Linked DNA regions of Homo sapiens: region 1 is linked to region 2. Evidence: fine-mapped expression QTL. A gene starts in region 2. The other region holds a variant in brackets. All regions are shown on one strand. Distances are from middle to middle. Region 1 overlaps ABHD2 (abhydrolase domain containing 2, acylglycerol lipase). Region 2 holds the start of ABHD2 (abhydrolase domain containing 2, acylglycerol lipase).

Evidence for each region.
Region 1: its variant is fine-mapped to the expression of ABHD2 in whole blood (TOPMed, PIP 0.98).

Annotation. Positions count from the first base shown.
Region 1 is chr15:89,128,696-89,137,693 of GRCh38, forward strand. The region is part of intron 3 of ABHD2 (abhydrolase domain containing 2, acylglycerol lipase); the gene reads left to right. It also overlaps the pseudogene HMGB1P8. Among named protein-coding and RNA genes, the nearest start is that of ABHD2, 45 kb to the left of the region's middle. The variant C/T (reference allele first, on the strand shown) is at 4,306.
Region 2 is chr15:89,084,755-89,093,752 of GRCh38, forward strand. ABHD2 (abhydrolase domain containing 2, acylglycerol lipase) reads left to right here and starts at 3,702. Exons shown (of 11, transcript NM_152924.5): 1 at 3,702-3,809. It overlaps LOC124903573, which reads right to left. Exons shown (of 7, transcript XM_047433432.1): 3 at 7,422-7,487; 4 at 6,381-6,529; 5 at 4,081-4,178; 6 at 3,314-3,932; 7 at 2,807-3,187. The coding sequence ends at 2,973. RefSeq lists enhancers at 2,465-3,110, 3,721-3,900, 3,842-4,361.

The DNA.
Region 1 (8,998 bases), 44 kb after region 2:
AGTTGCTTCGTGGCCAGCTCCTCACCAGGTCCCTATGCCACGATCTGGTGAGCTGAGAGCTGTTTGATTGTAGCAGAGAGCCCTATGGTCTGTGGGGGGGAGGAAGAGGAGATCAGATCACGAGGAGTCTCTAATTCCCAGAGAGGAAGAGTTTGGGCTTGATCCTGTGAGCACTGGTGGTAGGTGGTTGGAAAGGGAAGGATGGGACAAATTCCAGAGGTCTTCTAAGGTGGAATCAGTGGTATTGGTGGGTAATGGAATGGCCTTGGGCATCAGAGGAAAGGGCTGAATCACAGATTATGCTGAGGTTACTGAGCGGTTGAGAGAATAGAATCATTGACAGAAATAGGGAAGTCTAATGGGGAAGCTGCTTTCTCAAGGAAAGTTGTTTAGCTTGGGGCTTGTCCACAGGATGTGCACAGGGTTATGTGCAATTATGGCATTAGAACTTAGGTGGGAGCTCAAGACCAGATGTGTAGATTCCAGATCAGCTGCAGGTAGGGGAGGTTGTGGGGGTGGGCAGAGAGAGACACTAAAGACTGATGGCTGAGGCAGGCCATGGCTAGGGTGGAAGAGACAGAGACAGGCAGTAAGAAAGGTAGGGAGAGAACCAGCAGCCTCCAGTTCCATGGCAGCCAGAGAAGGAAAACATTGAAGAGGGTGTCAGAAACTCAGGAAGAATGAGGGCTGACCAAAGGCCATCTACCTTGGCCAGAAAGGATCAGGGATTTTTGAGAATGTGTTTTCAGGAGTGAGGTGAATAAACAGGTCAGCACAATAGCAACCAAAGAAGTGAGTCAGGAAACAAACACCAGAGAAGGAAGGAGAAAAAATGGAAACTGGAGGAGAAAGCCAAATTGATTGAAGGTTTTTCCCCTAAGATTGAGAGGGTAAATCCAGGGGCCCAAGTGAGAGGGTGAAGTTAGCGAGCTGTTGCCCCCCGGGAATCCAGAGTCCAGATCAGCAGTGAGACCCACCTGGGCTCAGATGCCAGCCCTGCCCCCTGCTGGCCAGTGGCTTCACCTTGCCGAGCTTCTATTTCCTCATTTGTAAGATGGGTATAATAGCACTTATTTCATAGGTTCAGTATGCTGATTAAAAAAAAAAAAAGAACAGCATGTAAGATGATTTATAGGATACTTGGCATGTGTAAGAGTTCAGTAAATATAGCTGCTATTATTGTAGCTATTTTTATTTTAATATTATCAGCTAGATCAGTTGTACAAATAGCAAAAGACATAATGTACACGAAGGTCACACAAGCACACCTGAATGTCAGTAGGACATCAGTGGGTAAGTGGGTAAAAGATGTGCCTAGATAAATTCCACATAAGGAAATACATGTAATAAGCACCTCATAATGTTAAGACTTGGTAACAATGAAGCCTTAAAACATGAAATATTATTTGATATTCAGAGGAAAATATGGCAATATTGTCAAAATTATATTAAGTTGGACATCGTATTAGTCGAAGTAAACTAGTTTATACTGTGGTAACTAATTACCTCTAAACCTGCACATCTTAAAGCCACAAATGTTTATTTCTCACTCATGCTACGTGTTTATTTCAATGGGCAGGAGGGCTCTGCTGATTGTCATCCCACCAGGACCCCAGCTGATGGAGGTGACATCTCAACACCTGCTTCCGTGGTCATCACCGAGCCAGGAAGAGCAATGTCACACCTCACACACTGGCTCTTACAGGCTGCTACCGGAAATGGCACTTGGTCATTTCCTTTCCCATTTCATTGGTTTGGGTGTCCAAGGGAGATAATACAGTCATGGGTTCTCAGTTTCTGTTTCTGGTTGGTCCGGTAAAGCCCCTTCCTCATCCCTGTTTTTTGCTTATCACTAGAGACAGAAACTACAAACCATGGCTTTAGGCTGCTAAAAGCCTACAAAAGAAACAGAACAATAACAACAAAATAAGGCAGGTTGGACAAGCTTGAGAGCTTGTCCAGCCCATAGCCCACAGACTGCATGTGGCCTGGGACAGCTTTGATTGCAGCCCAACACAAATTCATAAACTTTCTTAAAATATTATGAGATTTTTTGTGTGATTTTCTTTTTCTTTTAGTCCATCAGCTGTCATTAGTGTTAGTGTATTTTATGTGTGGCCCAAGACAATTCTTCCAAAGTGGCCCAGGGAAGCCAAAACATTAGACACCCCTGGTTTAAAGCAAGGCTCGTGCCCATGCCTAACTTGAGAAGCAGCACACCTGTGTCCAGAGAAGAGGAGAATAATCATGGCCACAGGCAGCAGCCTGTGTCACGTGGGCCTCCTTCCTTCTGTCCTTCACTCCATCTCTCCTTCAGTGCCTCTGCTTCACTGCAGGACGTCATCAGCTTTCACCTGGAAGAATGCAATAGCTTTCCCTCCATTCTCTACCCTTTCTAATTGATCTTGCAGGCCACCAAATTATCTTCCTAAAGCACAAATTCATCATGCCATGCCCCTGCTTTAAACCAAGTGGCTCCTCACTGTCTGTAGGGCGAGGTCCAGCATCAGCCCTCGCTCCTTCTTCCCTATATTCCTTGTGTTCTAGACACATCAGATCTCTCCACATTTTCTCATACTGCATGTTCTCTCTTGACTATGTCTTACATTTGCAATGCCTTCTACCTGGAATCCCTTCATACCTCCACACAGCCTCTTTATTTGAGAGAACATAATCACCTTCTTTCTGATGAATGCTTTCTGGACATTTATGGTTCTCTTCTCTGTTGTCTGATAGCATCTGGTGTGGCCTTGGGATCTAGGACCCAGCAGAGAGGTGAAGGGGCAGGATGGGAAGCCCTTCCAGAGGGGAACAGGCACAGGGACTCCTCAGTGGTGTGTCCAAGAAAAAGCAAAACTGGTTTCTGACTATTGAGAGACTAACAGGTCCCCTAGAGTCTGGAGACAAATTGATGATTGGCACATAGAAAACTAAGCTGATGAGGAAATGATAAAAGTGATAACTTGAGGGAAAATAAAAAATTTCACAAAAAAGAATACAACATATGACTTCTTTGTGGCTAATATTTCCATAATTATAATTTTATAAACACTGAAAATTAACCATAAGTGTTGCTGTAACAGTGTTGAAAAGAATGGGCGAGGGGAAAATGTAAGTCTTAGGAGAGACGTAAGAGAGCTAGCACCCTCCAGAGTAGGAAGTTCAATAGGTGCTATTGAAAACTGAAATTGAAGAACCAGCATAAGCAGGATAAGCATGGCATTAAGAAATAAAGGCAAGTGTGGGATGGTAGGGACGACTAAAGGAGTTAAGAATAGTCATCTCTCAGGGGCAGGAGTCAGGAGACAGATGAGGCATCCTGTTGGACTTTTTAAACAGGAGTTGAAAAACATGAAAAAAAAATTCAAGAAAGATGAAAACAAAATATGTAAAGATGTTTTGCTGGCATTGTTTATTATAGTAAAAACTGGGAATAGCAGCATCCAACAATGGAGGCAGCAGCAAGATAATGCAGGGGAAAGAAAGAGCTGTCGGGTCAGACACACACAGAGTTCAAATGCAGGGTCCGCTGTGCAGTAGGCTGTTGGACACTCAGTTTCTGTCTGTAAAGGGGGTCCTAATAATAAGAATCGCTGTAAGGGACAAATTGAATTATGTAACATGCCCATAGAAGGGGCTAAATAAATGTTTGCTCCCTCCCTTAACTATAGCTAATAAACAGGATAGAATTTTATGCAGACGTTCAGAACTTAGCATACTAATTATCTATAAAAATAGAGAATAAGTGAAAAAAGCAGAAGACAATTATATATCTCTATCTGAGCACCATTGTTGTAACTATGTAAATACTCTGCTTTCAGATAGATATAGATGAAAAGGAAACAAAAATGAGAATATTTTTGCAAGGCTTGTGAGGATATGGGTGATTTTTAAGCTTCTAATTTCTTATAGCTATTTCAAATTGATATGAAATTAAGAGGACTCTGAATATGCATTTCATCTTTCATAGTTTTGAAAGCCATTATCTTGTTCATTCCTAATAATAAGCAGTGACACCAGCACTGTCCTTTGCATTTGTCCTTTATATGTAAAGAGAGATGGACTTTGCTTTAGTAGGACTTTCTAGAACATGCTTATCTGCATGGTTTGGTGGCGCTCTCTCACTTTGTGGACAAGATGAAGGTCTGGTGCCTAAGCTGGGGTTTCTCAAGGATGGAGTTGTTGACCATCTGAGAAAATGTTTTCCTGTGCCCACATACCGTAGGGGAGGGCTGCCATTTCAACAGGGCTAACCCACAGCCATCAACAGTGGCTTCTATCAGCTTTTTGTAACTGTTCCTCTGA[C/T]GGAAAGCTCCAGGGCAGCTGCATCATTTCCTTCCTCTTACATTTGTGCTCAAGGCTCACCCTGGTCAAGAAGCCTGGCTGCATTTCCCAGAGGTTCTTTTATCAGCCAGTAGAACCTATGACCTTGTACCCTCCGTGTTGCCCTTGCTGTCAGTCGGCTCTTGTTTATCCTTCCATCTTTTCTTTGTGAAATATCACTCAGAGATTTGTCCATAGGAGTGCTGAAAGAGCTTCCTCCATTTATGTCTTGACTGCTTCGTATTCCATAAAAAAATAGTTTGTTTAACCAGTCTCCTAGATAGAGGTTTCCTTTATTTGTAATCTTTTGCTTTCACAATGTTGCATTGAATGCTTCTGTATTTTCATCACGATGCGCACCTGTCAGTATAGGATAAACTCCTAGAGGTGGAACTACTGGGTCAAAGGGGATGTGCATGGAAAATTTTGCTAGCTGTTGTCCTCAAGCCTCTCCACACCAGCACTGTGAGCACATTTCCCCAAAACGTTGCCAACATCAGGAGTTCTACTTTTTGATATTTGCCAATCTGGTAGGTGAAAAATGTTTTCTCACTGTGGTTTTAATTAGTCTTTCTTTGATTAAAGAGACTGTGTATCTTTTCATATTTTAGAACTCTTTTTATTTCCTTTTCTGTTCACTGCCTGTTGGTGGCCTCTAACCATTTTTCTGATGGTCATTGGTCTTTTTCCTAATCATTTGAGGGAGCTCTTTATGTACTAGGGAAATTAGCCCTTTGTGATATGAATTGCAAATATTTGTTCTCAGTTTGTCATTTGTCTTTTGACTTTGCCCATAGTGGTATTTGCCATGCATAATTTTTTTTTTTTTTTTTTTTGAGACAGAGTCTCGCTCTGTCACCCAGGCTAGAGTGCAGTGGCGTGATCTCGGCTCACTGCAAGCTCCGCCTCCTGGGTTCACACCATTCTCCTGCCTCAGCCTCCTGAGTAGCTGGGACTACGGGTGCCTGCCACCACGACCGGCTAATTTTTTTTGTATTTTTAGTAGAGACGGGGTTTCACCATGTTAGCCAGGATGGCCTCGATCTCCTGACCTCGTGATCCTCCCGCCTCAGCCTCCCAGAGTGCTGGGATTACAGGCGTGAGCCACGGCGCCCGGCCGCATAATTTTTTTTAATGTTTGCATAATTAAATTTTTCAATTGTTTCTTTTGTGGCTTCTGGGATTTCTGGTTTCCTTAGAAAGGTCTTCTTCACTGCAAGATTATTTTTAAAAGCCTAGAATTTCTTCTAGCATATGAATGATTTCATTTTTATTTTGAAATGTTTCATCCTTCCAGAATTTATCCTGGTGTGAGGTGTGGCTCCAACATAATTTTTTTCAAGACGGCTACACTTTGTCCAACACTATTAAACAATCCATCTTTACCCCATTATTCAAATGCCACCTTTTTCACCAACTAAATTTCCTGGATGTATTTAGGCATATTTCCAGTCTTTTGTGTTCTGTTGATGGTCCTGAACATATACCATCAGCAGATTGCAGCTTTGTACTATGTTTTGCTGTGGGCAGTGGGGCGATGCTCATACCCCAGCACTGCTTGTTTTCATACTTTTCTTGGCTATTATAGCTGGTTCATTTTTCCAAATGAACTTTAGAATGCTTGTTTAATTCCACATATAAAAATCTTATTATTTTTATTGTGTATCTCTTAAGTTTATAGGTAATTTAGGGAAAATTGACATGTTTGTGATGCCAAGTTTTCCAGTGCAAGTTCATTTATTCAAGTCTTTGAGCCCGAAAGAGCATTATAAAGTTTTCTTATCTCCTTTTCTTGATTGTGAACTCCCTGGGAGCAAGAATGGGGTCAAGTTTTGAGTATGGCTTATTAGTAATGATCTATATAATTACTGACAAAAGAAACATAATTTTCATTAAATATTTGTAGAACCTACTTTTTCCTAACATCATTGCTTGCCATTTTATGAGTTGTTTTCTGCACATCAAAGAAAGGCAAGATGTAGTACAAATGCTGATGTCAAATGTCAGCATTTTAATCCTTAAAGTCATCTCTTGATTGGTGTGTTCTTTCTTTATTTATTTTTAATAAAAAATTGTATTTGCTTAGAAGCATTCAGAATGTCAACAAAATGGCTACAACTTTTTCTTTTTTTTTTTTTTTTTTGCAATTACAGAGTGGTATTCACTTAACAACAGTCATTTTATATAAGCTGCATCAGAGACAACTGAAGATGAAAAAACTACCATCCCCATATATAACTAATTTGTGCCATGCACTAACAAGAACCTGCTTTTAATTTCCATGCCAGTTTACAATCCCCATACTGTACTAGGCAAGGTTGGTGGCTATTGAAAATACCACCAGGACAGGGATATCTAAAGACACATTTGGTAGTGTGTTAACTATACAAAAAAAAAAAGACATTGTACAGTTTAAAAACAAATCTTACACAGCCTTACATTTCAGTTTTTTTCTTTAAAAGGAGTGAGTTATGTACAGGTTAAATGCTTTATAGACGAGAAAAAAAACTACACTAGAACCAACTTATTCATCATCATCTTCATCTTCCTCCTCCTCATTCTTATCCTCTTCATCTTCCTCATCTTCCTCCTCTTCCTTCTTTTTCTTGCTTTTTTCAGCCTTGACAACTCCCTTTTTTTGCTGCAGCAGGCTTTCCTTTAGCCCGATATGCAGCAATATCCTTTTCTTACTTTTCCTTCAGCTTCGCAGCCTTCTTTTTATAAGGCTGCCTGTCATCTGCAGCAATGTTATTCCACATCTCTCCCAGTTTCTTTGCAACATCATTAGTGGACAGGCCAGATGTTCTCCTTTGATATTTGGGCGATACTCAGAACAGAACAGAACAGGACAGAACAGAACAGGAAGAAGGCCGAAGGAGGCCTCTTGGGTGCACTGGGATCCTTTAACTTTTTTTTTTTTCTTTTGAGATGGAGTTTCCCTTTTGTTGCCCAGGCTGGAGTGCAATGGCGCAATCTCAGCTCACTGCAACCTCTGCCTCCCAGGTTCAAGCGATTCTTTTGCCTCAGCCTCCCGAGTAGCTGGGATTACAGACGCCCGCCACCATGCCTGGCAATTTTTTTTTTTTTTTCAGTAGAGACGGGCTTTCACTGTCTTGGCCAGGCTGGCCTCGAACTCCTGACCTTAGGTGATCTACCCGCCTCAGCCTCCCAAAGTGCTGAGATTACAGGCGTGAGCCACCACACCCAGCCTGAACGTCTTTTTTGTCTCCCCTTTAGGAAAGATACAGGTTTTCGTTTCTCTTTCGTATGGGCCCTGTCTGCCTTTGCCATATCTTCGAATTTTCCTTTCTGTTTAGTAGGCATGGTCTTCCACCTCTCTGAGCACTTCTTAGAAAACTCTGAGGAGTTGACTGAAGCATCTGGATGTTTGTTCTTATGTGCCTCCCTACAAGTTTGCACAAAAAATGCATATGATGGCATTTTCTCTCTTGGCTTCTTAGGGTCTCCTTTGCCCATGTTTAGTTATTTTTCCTCAGCAAGGCACAGAATTGCCCAGTGCCCATCTGGCTCTCACTTGCCCCAGTGCTATCTCTATGGAGCTCATTGTACTGCAATGGCTGTGATATCGGGAGCCAGGTGCAGCCTCCTCACTCTCTCCGCTCTATAACATTGCTCTCCAGCCAGCGCAGCTCCTAGTTGATTAGCGTGTTCTTAAAAGAGCATTCTGTGTAGGTAATCCAGGGGCTTCACATTTAGGTATTTGAGTTTTCCTCCACTAGGAATAGTGGCAAATATAATGTGATTTTCCAGCTCTAATCTTCCCTCCCCATAACGCTGGCACAGATTTTGAGGTAGCCTTGGCCTGGGAAGTAGCCAAAAGGCACTGTGTTGGACAAAGAGCAGACCATTGGCATCTATGTGCATGTCCTCAGGAGAGAGGTGACTAGGCAGATGGGGACAAGACACGGGTGCTCTGTGTTCTGAGCGTCAGCGTACATCCTGTTTGGTTAGCACAGAGTGAGTCTGGGAACTTTGCACTTAGCACCTTGGCAGCCCAGGTCTGGGAATAGTGGTGCCTTCTCCTAAAGTTAGGTCACTAATCTTTGACTGGCTGTTTGCAGGACCAGTTCTCTAACGGATCCAGGGTTCCAGTGGAACCCTGGAGACTGGAACTCTGGAGCTTCTTAATAAACTGCCTCCCTACTTAAAGCATGGTGTCAAAACCAGGTTGAAATGCAACGTGAGGAGAGAGGACTGTGCTTTGGTGTGCCTAGGGAGGATGTGACCAGTTCCGCGTGCTGTTTGTGAACAGGAAGATAGTGGGATCAGATGCATTTAACATGTGGATACAGTTCTGAGGGGTTTTAACTGGTTTTCTTTGAACTTTAGAAAAGCACATTTATTTTTCCTTGGAGCAAAAAAGTAGTTTCTTTTTAAGTGGTTTTATTGTAACTCATGGGGCTGTTCTCCTAACATTCATATTTTATAGTTTGCACGATATGCACAAAGGTCACAGATGTACCAGCCTGGCCCAGTGGCCTCCGTCCTGTATTTAGAAACCAGTTCGGGAACGGAAGAGGATTGCTCTTTTGTTTCCTCAGGCCACTTTTGGTCATTTCAGGCAGAAACAGTCTCTGCATTGGAATTTTCCTGTGCAGATCCTGCAATTCAGGAATAGAGCATTTAGCAACAACAGTGAAAATGTAATGTGTGA
Region 2 (8,998 bases):
AAACATTTTTAGGTATTTGCCAGGTACTGTTTGATGCACTTTGCATCTGTGAACTCATCTGCCACTCAAAGGACCCCATGAGACAAGCACTTCACTGTCCTCTGCGTTTTACAGAAGAAAGTAGGGCACAGAGATGTGCTGTACTCGCCCAAGGTCACAAGGCTAGGAAGGATGGAATCAGGATCCAATCCCCAGCAGTAGAGCTTCCAAATCCCCTTTCTCTGAACCATCCCCCGAGGACACAGAATAACAAAAATGACAAACTGAGTGAATTGCTGATTTTCCTTAAAAGAATAAATAGAACATATTATCTGCTCCAACCACTGCTCCCTGCTGTCTCCCAGAGTACCTTGACTTTCTCAGGTTAGTAAATCCTGCAGAGGCCCCAGTTGAGTTAGAAGCAGTTCTGCTTTAATGAAGTCCTGCAGCTTTGGCCATCCCAGAAGGTGACTGGGGCATACCCTCTCCCTTGTTCTTTTTTATTACAAGGTACTGTCACGGTTTTGAAAATTCACTTTACAGCCACATCCCAACACCTGCTTATCTCAGGCCAAGGCTCACCAAATCCTCAATCCCAACGGGCCACTAAACTTGAAGGCAAAAATAAGTCCATTTTGTCTCCTAAATGGCCTCCCTCAGAAATGATTTATAGAATGAAATAATATGATTAAACAGAATATGGCAAGACTGCAAGCAGAAGGGAGGAAACAGAAACCAGAGACAATTAAGGAAACAGTTCTGTGTGCTGGGAAATGATAATGGATCATTCTTTAAGCCTGCCAGAGCTGCAGAGAAGATGCCCGGATCCTTTTACTCTTCCTCCTCTTCCTGAGCTCAGTCTGTGCCTCTTTTTGAGCCTCTGTGACATAATTGTGTTTTAGAATTCCTGAACTGGAAAGATGTCCTTTTCTGGAACTGGTGGCTGAACCTATGTTCCTGAGATGGGAGAAAAAAGCCATTTACACAATGGCGAGCCCATCTGCAATCTACTCCTAACAGCTGCTTTTTGTGGCTCTGAATCAAGTTGGAGAAATCATCCTGGATCTCAGGAGCCACTTCATGCTTTTCAGGGCCTAACAAGACATCTCACTTTCCCTTAGCAAACACAGGCAGAAGCAAACCTGTATTGGGCTGGGCCTATTTCCGTAACATGCATGCAGCCATGTGTATGGCTACCAAGCAGCACTGTTTAAAGACAAGAACCAGAAAACTGTGGATCAGAACCAAATGTGTACATAGATATGTGTACACACCCCTCCAAAACTAGTGACAAATCTTTTTTGTTTTTTTTTTTCTGAGACAGAGTCTCACTCTGTCATCCAAGCTGGAATGCAGTGGTGCAATCTCACTGCAGCCTCTGCTTCCTGGGTTCAAACGATTATCCTGCCTCAGCCTCCTGAGTAGCTGGGATTACAGGTGTGTGCCACCATGCCCAGCTAATTTTGTATTTTTAGTAGAGATGGGGTTTCACCATGATGGCCAGGCTGGTCTGGAACTGCTGACCTCAGGTGATCCTCCTGCCTTGGCCTCCCAAAGTGCTGGGATTACAGGCTTGAGCCACTGTGCCCAGCCTATTTTTTAAATTATTATTAATTTTTAATTGACAAAATTTGTATATATTTATGATGTACAACATGCTTTACTTATTTATGTTTATCATGTTATTATGTTTATTTGTCAAACAAGGTCTCACTCTGTGGCCCAGGCTGGAGTGCAGTGGTGCGATCACAGCTCACTGCAGCCTCAACTTCCTGGGCTCAAACAACCCTCCTGCCTCAGCCTCCCCACTAGCTGGGACTACAGGCATGCACCACCACATCAGGCTAAATTTTAAATTTTTTGTAGAGACGGGGTCTCACTATGTTGCCCAGGTTGGTCTCAGACTCCTGGGCTCCGCCTCAGCTTCCCAAAATGTTGGATTACAGGCGTGAGCCACTGTACCGGTCCATGTTTTGATACATGTATACATTGTGGGATAGCTACACCAAGCTAGTTAACATATGCATTACCTTATATACTTATCTAGTGATAATCTAAAGCTCTTTTTTGGAAGTCCAAACTGTTTTAACTCAGAGTCAGGACGATGGGGTTCATCACTAAGAGACTTTGCTACTGAAGCCTGGGTTTTTCTTTTCCAAGATGAAAGAGAATACAGAGGAATATATAAACACTGAGATGAAACCTTTTTTTTTCAAGGTAACATGACAACTGAATGAAAAATAGAGCAATGGCAAAGGATTCTTTCTTCTCCTTCACTCTGATGTACCATGGCTGTGAGTTCTTTCAAAGACAGACACAAAGGGTCTGGGGCTACATTCAGGCCTGAGAAGCTATTTCTGTCCACACTCTGTGATGTCTACACCTTCAGAATGGGGAATGGGTTTCAGGGGTCTCTGACAGATAGAGCTCATGCAATGATTTCTGGTCCGGTGCTGATCAGCCTTCAAAGGATGTTATTTGGTTACGCTCCATAAAACTTGAGCCAGCCCACTGTTCCTTGTCACAACCTGAAATATGTTGGGAAAAATTTACATGGTAACAAATGCCACTTCCCTTCTCTGACTAAATCGCTCCTCTCATTTCATCCCCTGCTCCCTCTCTCCGAGCCCTATGGGGCCTTGGTAGGGTGGCCTTGTCTGCCCTACAGGGGTTGCATTTCAAGTCGCTCAAGTGTTCTATTCTTGGTACACGACATGCCATTGCAAAAGCAGTTTCAGGCTCATAGAATTTTAGAAATGGGCCTAGTTTCCCAGCCGGATGAGGTGAGTGGGTGATGGGGGAAGAATCAGCCTTGATTGAATGCCTGTTGAGTGCCAGCCACTGTTGGCATTTATCAGAGTTTATTTAATCTTCTCATCAACTACTATTGTTACCCTCAGTTGCCAAGTGAAGGGAGCATGCGGGAAGGTTAAGTGACTTGCCCAAGCCCACACAACCGGTAGGAGCCCCAATTCCAGGCCCTAGTTCCAAGGCTACATTCTTCCAGGCGGCCTCCAACTGGGTTGGTTAAGGGTTGAAAGGACAGTGGGACAATAACTGAGGCCCGTATTGCCCAGAGCGTCCCCATCCCCCGTCCGGAGCTGGAAGAGGCCATAGACCGCTGCCTCCACATCTTTTCCTCTCCTTCGGGTTCGGTGACTCACGACCCTTCTTCCTCTCTCCCGGGATATGACCTCAAATTTCACCCCTGCGAAATTTGAGTACACGTGAGTCAGTCAGTCGGCCTGGACCCATAAGAGCCCCAGCTGAGCTACCAGCAGCTGAGCTACCAGCCGACCTCATTCCTCTGAGCCCAGTCGACAGCTGACCTTACCCAGCCCTCTAAAGCAGTTTGCGGTCACAATTACCCGTCTCTTCACCCCGCCCCCATCGACATCAAACACGACCCACCTTCTAGCCCTCCTCCCCTTTCCCCGCCCACTCCGGGCTGGCCTTATCCAGTAGCGTCTGGGTCCCTGGACTAAAGCCGTCAAATGTAACCAATTGCTGAGGAGCTCTCCCCTAAGAATCCCGCCTCCACTCTGAGGAACAGCTTCGCTGATCAATGGATCCCCTCCTAGACGCAATGAGCGCGCGGGGCAAGTGGAGAAGCGGCTGAACTGCCCAATGAACAAGCGGTTTCCGTGGTTAGGGGCGTGGCAGAAGCGGTCGTCAGGGGCGTGGCGGCAGTTACTTGGGCGGGGCCGGTAGCGGCGGGAGCTGCACTGGCCAGGGGTTCCGGCTGTATATCCATGAGCGCCGCTGGCAGCCGGGGAGCTGCAGGAACCAGACTGGGGGCGAGCTGAGCACCTGTAGTCAATCACACGCAGGTAAAGCCACGGCCGAGCGAGCTCCGCGGAGCGGGGATCGCACCCCGGACCCGTCGAACCGAATCTCCGAGCCCCGAGGTCCCCGGCGTAGCTCGGCCCATCACGCCGCAGCCTGAGGGGATCCTGGGGGGCCTGTCATCTGGCGCCGTGGGGGTCCCAGGGGCTGGCTTGCCCAGTGGTGGGGACAGCCCAGATCGCGGCGGGGGATACGCCTTCCTGAGGCCCTTTGTCCCCTTCTGCCCGAGGAACCGAGGTTGGGGACAACCCCGACCGCGGCCTTTCCCCCATTGGTGCTCACTCCTGGGTCTTCAGGGGCCTGGGGAGGGGTCTGCCGGTTCAGGCTCGGCGAAGAAGGTCCGGGATCCGCACCTGGAAGGAGAGGGCCGAGGGGCCTGATTACAGCCCGAGATACCCGAGAGGCCTCTGTGTTTCGGGGCTCCAGGGGCTCACGCAGGACCAGTGGGTTTAAGTTCTAGAAAGGCAGCTTTTGACCCACTTGGAAGCACATTTACCGAGTTCGGCCCCGCGACCGGCACTGTTCTAGGCCCTTCGTGAGCTTTTCCCACAGCTAGAGCTGTCCAGCAGCGCAGGAGGCTGCCTGCCAGGCCGGGCAGCTAGCGCCTCGACCTTGGCGATGTCCAAGCAGTGGCCTGATGACAGCCACCTGTGTCGGATGCTTAGGACTCCCAAGGGAGGACTGCATGACCCATCTGTAAGGGCCTTCTCTACCCACAAATGCACTCTAAGTGGCCTTTGATGCCTAGCTTGAGAAGAGTACTTCTGGGGGTCCATTAGGTTCCAAGTGGCTGTTGAATTCACCCATAATGAATTTTGAGGTTTCAGCTCTCAAGAGTGGGTGTTAGCAAAGAGACTGGATTATACAAAAAGATAGAGGTTTATTTAGCCACTGTGAAACTCCTTGTATTTGAACTACCATGGACCGCTCTCTTAATCTTCCCAATCTCTCTTTTTTGGTTGCTGGACCTCCAGTTTGTCAGTTTCACCTGCATTCCAGTAACCAAATCCAAAGGCATGTTCCAAGAACAGGCTCCACAGAGGGACCTGGAGAGACTGCAGGTTTGGCAGAGTCAACAAGATCTGTGCCCAGAGCTTTTCGAAGGCCGTTTCCTTACAGCCACATTAAGCAGAGTCCAAAAGAGAAATCCTTCACTACCCTCTGTCATTTGCCGGAATAGAGAGAACATAATAATCTAAAGGTCAGGAGGCAGAGAAAGAATCTTAACACACCTTGCTGTGTGTTTTAGGATGAATTAATCTTTGAACATCTAGTCAGAAAGCAGTCCATATACAGCTGGTAGTCAGCACGGACTGTGACATTTTAGAGCTGAAGGCACCTTAGATAGAGCTCATCTCTATCTAAGTCTAATTAGGTGGACTCTCATTCAGTCTCCTCAATGCACAGGTGAGGAAACTGAGGCCTGGGGTGGTCACAGGGCTGGTTGGTCATCACAGGCCCATGACTAAGGGTTGATCTCTTGACTGTATTTAGATCTAGCCAGTGCATGACTTATTTCACTCCAAGCTTAGTTTGCCCATTCTCAGTGTTTTAAGTTCTAGGGGAGTCCAGAGAGGTTAGGAGGACAGATTTTGGTGCCTGAGTGCCTGGATTTGAATCCCAGCCCTGCCTCTTACTGGCTGTACAACCTTGGGCAAGCTACTTAACTTCTCTGTGCCTCTGTTTCCTCACCTCTAAAACAGAAATAATAATGATACTTATGTTAGAAGATTGTTTTGAGAAGTGCATGGAGTTACTACATCTGAAGCATTTAGAACAGTACCTGGCACAGGGTAAGCACAATAGATTTGCTAGATATGATATTCTGTTGCCTTTTTGTACATTTTTCTTCATATCCACCACCCAATACTCTATCAAGAGCTAATTTTTCCCCCAGTCCCCTTCCCCCCACCCCCAAATTCATTTAACATATTCCAGATTTCATTTTAACACAGACAGCTGCAAGGGGTTTCCAAGTCACGTTGCATTTTATACCTTACTTATTTTTGTGATTCAGGTAATTTAGTTTCTATGTTAGTTCCCCCTTGCAGTTACATTCTTCTTAGGCTCTGAACCCTTTAAAATTATCGTTAAAAGCAGGCAGTGAGGGGTGGGAATCCCTCGAAATGGTAAAGTCCTGGATGATACCCGTGTCCATGGTGTCCTTCCAAATATGTATTCCCTCTCTTCAGCCCTCCTCCCAAGCGATGAGTGTGATGCAGCTTGATTCTAAATGGATGAACATTTTTAGATTAAGATTTTATGAGCCACTGTATTAAGTGCTTTTCGGAAGTTCAGGGATCATGTGTCAACTGCATTTAAGGAAGTTACTTAGTCATTCGAATAGGGGGAGCACCAGCAGCGCCTGCCTGGCCTGGCAGAAGCAAAAGTGTGTGACTGATCCGTGCTGGCAATCTAGCTGGTTCACTGGTTTATCTGTGTTTTTCCTGTTCTTTTCCAAAGCTTGAAATAAACCAGATGGCAAGTACAAGGGAATGGTCTTTTTCCTCTCATTTTAGTCAGGGTCGTTCACTTTTTTCCCTTTTTACTCTCACCTTCATTTCCTTTATCGCCTGCGTGGGTCTGACAAATAGGCACTCTCAGTGTGCCAGCCAATTCCCTTTTGATGAAAAGATGCCTGCCACTTTCATTTTTTGCAGGAATCCAGTCACCTTTGATTTTCTCTTCTGTTTTTACTTGTTTTCTAGATTGAACCAAAGATTATCACTTCATTAAATGGCACCTTCTCATGCTTTATTTTTCTTGAGTTGATTCTGAATTTCGGTTTTTGTTTAAGCTGTTCTAGAGATCAGCCATTTTAGAATAATAGTTTTCATTTCTTTGCTTGTGTATTAATATGGGCCCCTTTCTCTCTTTCTCACTCTCTTTTCTCAGTATTTTGGTGGATGAGCTTCTCATTTGCTGTTACTCGTTGCTTTAAGCATTTACGCCTTTTCCTGGTAATCTCCGGCAGGACCCATAACCTCTGTAGTGGTTCTCACTGCCCTTGTTCAGAGCTCCTGCCCCGAGCAGGAAATAATTTCTTTGGTCTTATGGGAGACAGGGGTAGAGTCTGTCTTATTTTTTGCCTAAAATCTGGCTCTTTTAAAAGCCCCAGGAGAGAGACATTTCCAATATAATTGAATTTTGTGTGGCAGAATTTCTACCATGACCTACAGCTTACAGTATTCCCATTTTTATTGCATTGTGAGTTTTGAGTACTCCATGACCAGTTTCAGAGTATAGATGATGTGGGGCATGAGTTGCTTTAGCCTTTCTGTTTCATCTTGGGCTAAGCTATCCCCAGGAACAGAGCAATGAGAAGTTCAGGGTGCCTCTTAAATGTGTCTGGTGTCAGGATTTTATAGCAGCTTTTCATGGTTCAGCCTTTTTGGCCAGTGCATGAGTAGGACATTTTTAAGCCCTGTGCTGCTGTTTCTTTGTTGATACCATACAGATGCTACATTATCTCCTTTCAGGATTTTCATATCTGCAGATTGATTTTTGTTGTCTTGTCCAGGGCATCATATTTTTGGATTGAATGTTTTCTGTTTGTAAAATGGTTGGTGTGGACAGACGATAAGCTCCACCATTACCCCTGAAGCTTGTGGACTGGGGCCATTTGGGTGAGGGGCTTGTTACACACCGACTCATTGTCTGATCTTTCACAATAAATAGCAGACAGGTGAAGAGCTTTTTAGAGAAGTGGAACGTTGGTACCCTTGGATTTGCCTGGTTTCTGATTTTCTTTTGTTGTCTTTAAGTGGAGGTTCATTAAGTTCAACAAATTAAGCATCTGGTGTGTGCCAGGAACACAGTTGACAAGATTAACAAATTAGTTTGGTTTGTTGCTTAAAAACTATTTTGTTTTAAAATTGTTTTTAATAGAAATTTTAAAATTTTTTAATTCAAATTTTAGTTTTTAAAAATAGGCAATACATTCACATGATGAAAGAAAATTTTTTAAAGGCACAAAAGGTTAACTAGTAAATACATCTGTGTGTACCCCTGACCCCTGATCCTCAGAGGCAACCAGTATTAGCGATTTCTTCATCCTCCAGAAGTGGTCCCTGAACTTCCAAGGGATTTTATACATCTGTAAGCAAATTCGTTAAACATATTCTGTACACCACCCCTTTTTGCAGAAATGGTAGCACACTGCATACATGCTATTTGGAACCTTGCCTTTTTCACTTAATATTTCTTGGCAGTGTGAAAAGAGCTTCCACGTCATTTTTTATGAAGGCCGTCTATTTTAGATATCTGTTTTCTGTTTCTAAGGATGCTAAAAAACAGTCTTATTTAGGCAGCAGCTTTGCTGGAGATCTTAAAGATCTTGTGAATATTTGGAGGCAAATATTTTTCTTTTCTGTGAGAGCCCGGGGGAGGTGCAGGGGAGCTTCTAAAGGTCAGCTGAGAAGGGAGAGCTGGGGCACTGGAGAGTGAGGAACGCATTGGTCCTTGGGCCCTTCTTCGCCTTGCCGTCTGTGCAGAATGTGCTAGCATTTCCAGGGAAAGTTTGCCGTTTGCTCTCTGTTCTCCAGAGAAGCTTCCTGGCCTCCCCAAGTCACATTTCCAGCATCTTTTTTCATTCTTTTTTTTTTTTTTTTTTTTTTTTGAGACAGAGTCTCACTTTTGTCTCCCAGGCTGGAGTGCAGTGGCGCAATCTTGGCTCGCTGCAACCTCTGCTTCGCGGGTTCAAACGATTTTCCTGCCTCAGCCTCTCAAGTAGCTGGGATTACAGGCACACGCCACCACCCCCAGCTAATTTTGTATTTTTGGTAGAGACAGGGTTTCACTATGCTGGTCTCAAACTCCTGACCTCAGGTGATCCTCTTGCCTCAGCCTCCCAAAGTGCTGGGATTACAGACGTGAGCCACCGTGCCTGGCCTCATTTCCAGCATCTCTGTTGCATTTCATCCCGTCTCCTGCACCACAGCATCACTCCATTTGTCCTGCCTTTGGGCGTCCAAGAGGAAGCCTGCCCTTTGTCACAGCACTTTCTGTTTGGGTAGCTTTAAGTGTCTCACCCCTTCTTTTCTCTCACCCCAGGAAAAACCAGCTCTCACACCTGCTCCTCTGTAAAGCGTCTTCCCCAAGCCCACACGTAATTTTGTTGCTGTCCTTGAAAGTATTTCCCAAGATCTCCAAACCGCTTTAAACTTCCAAGGTC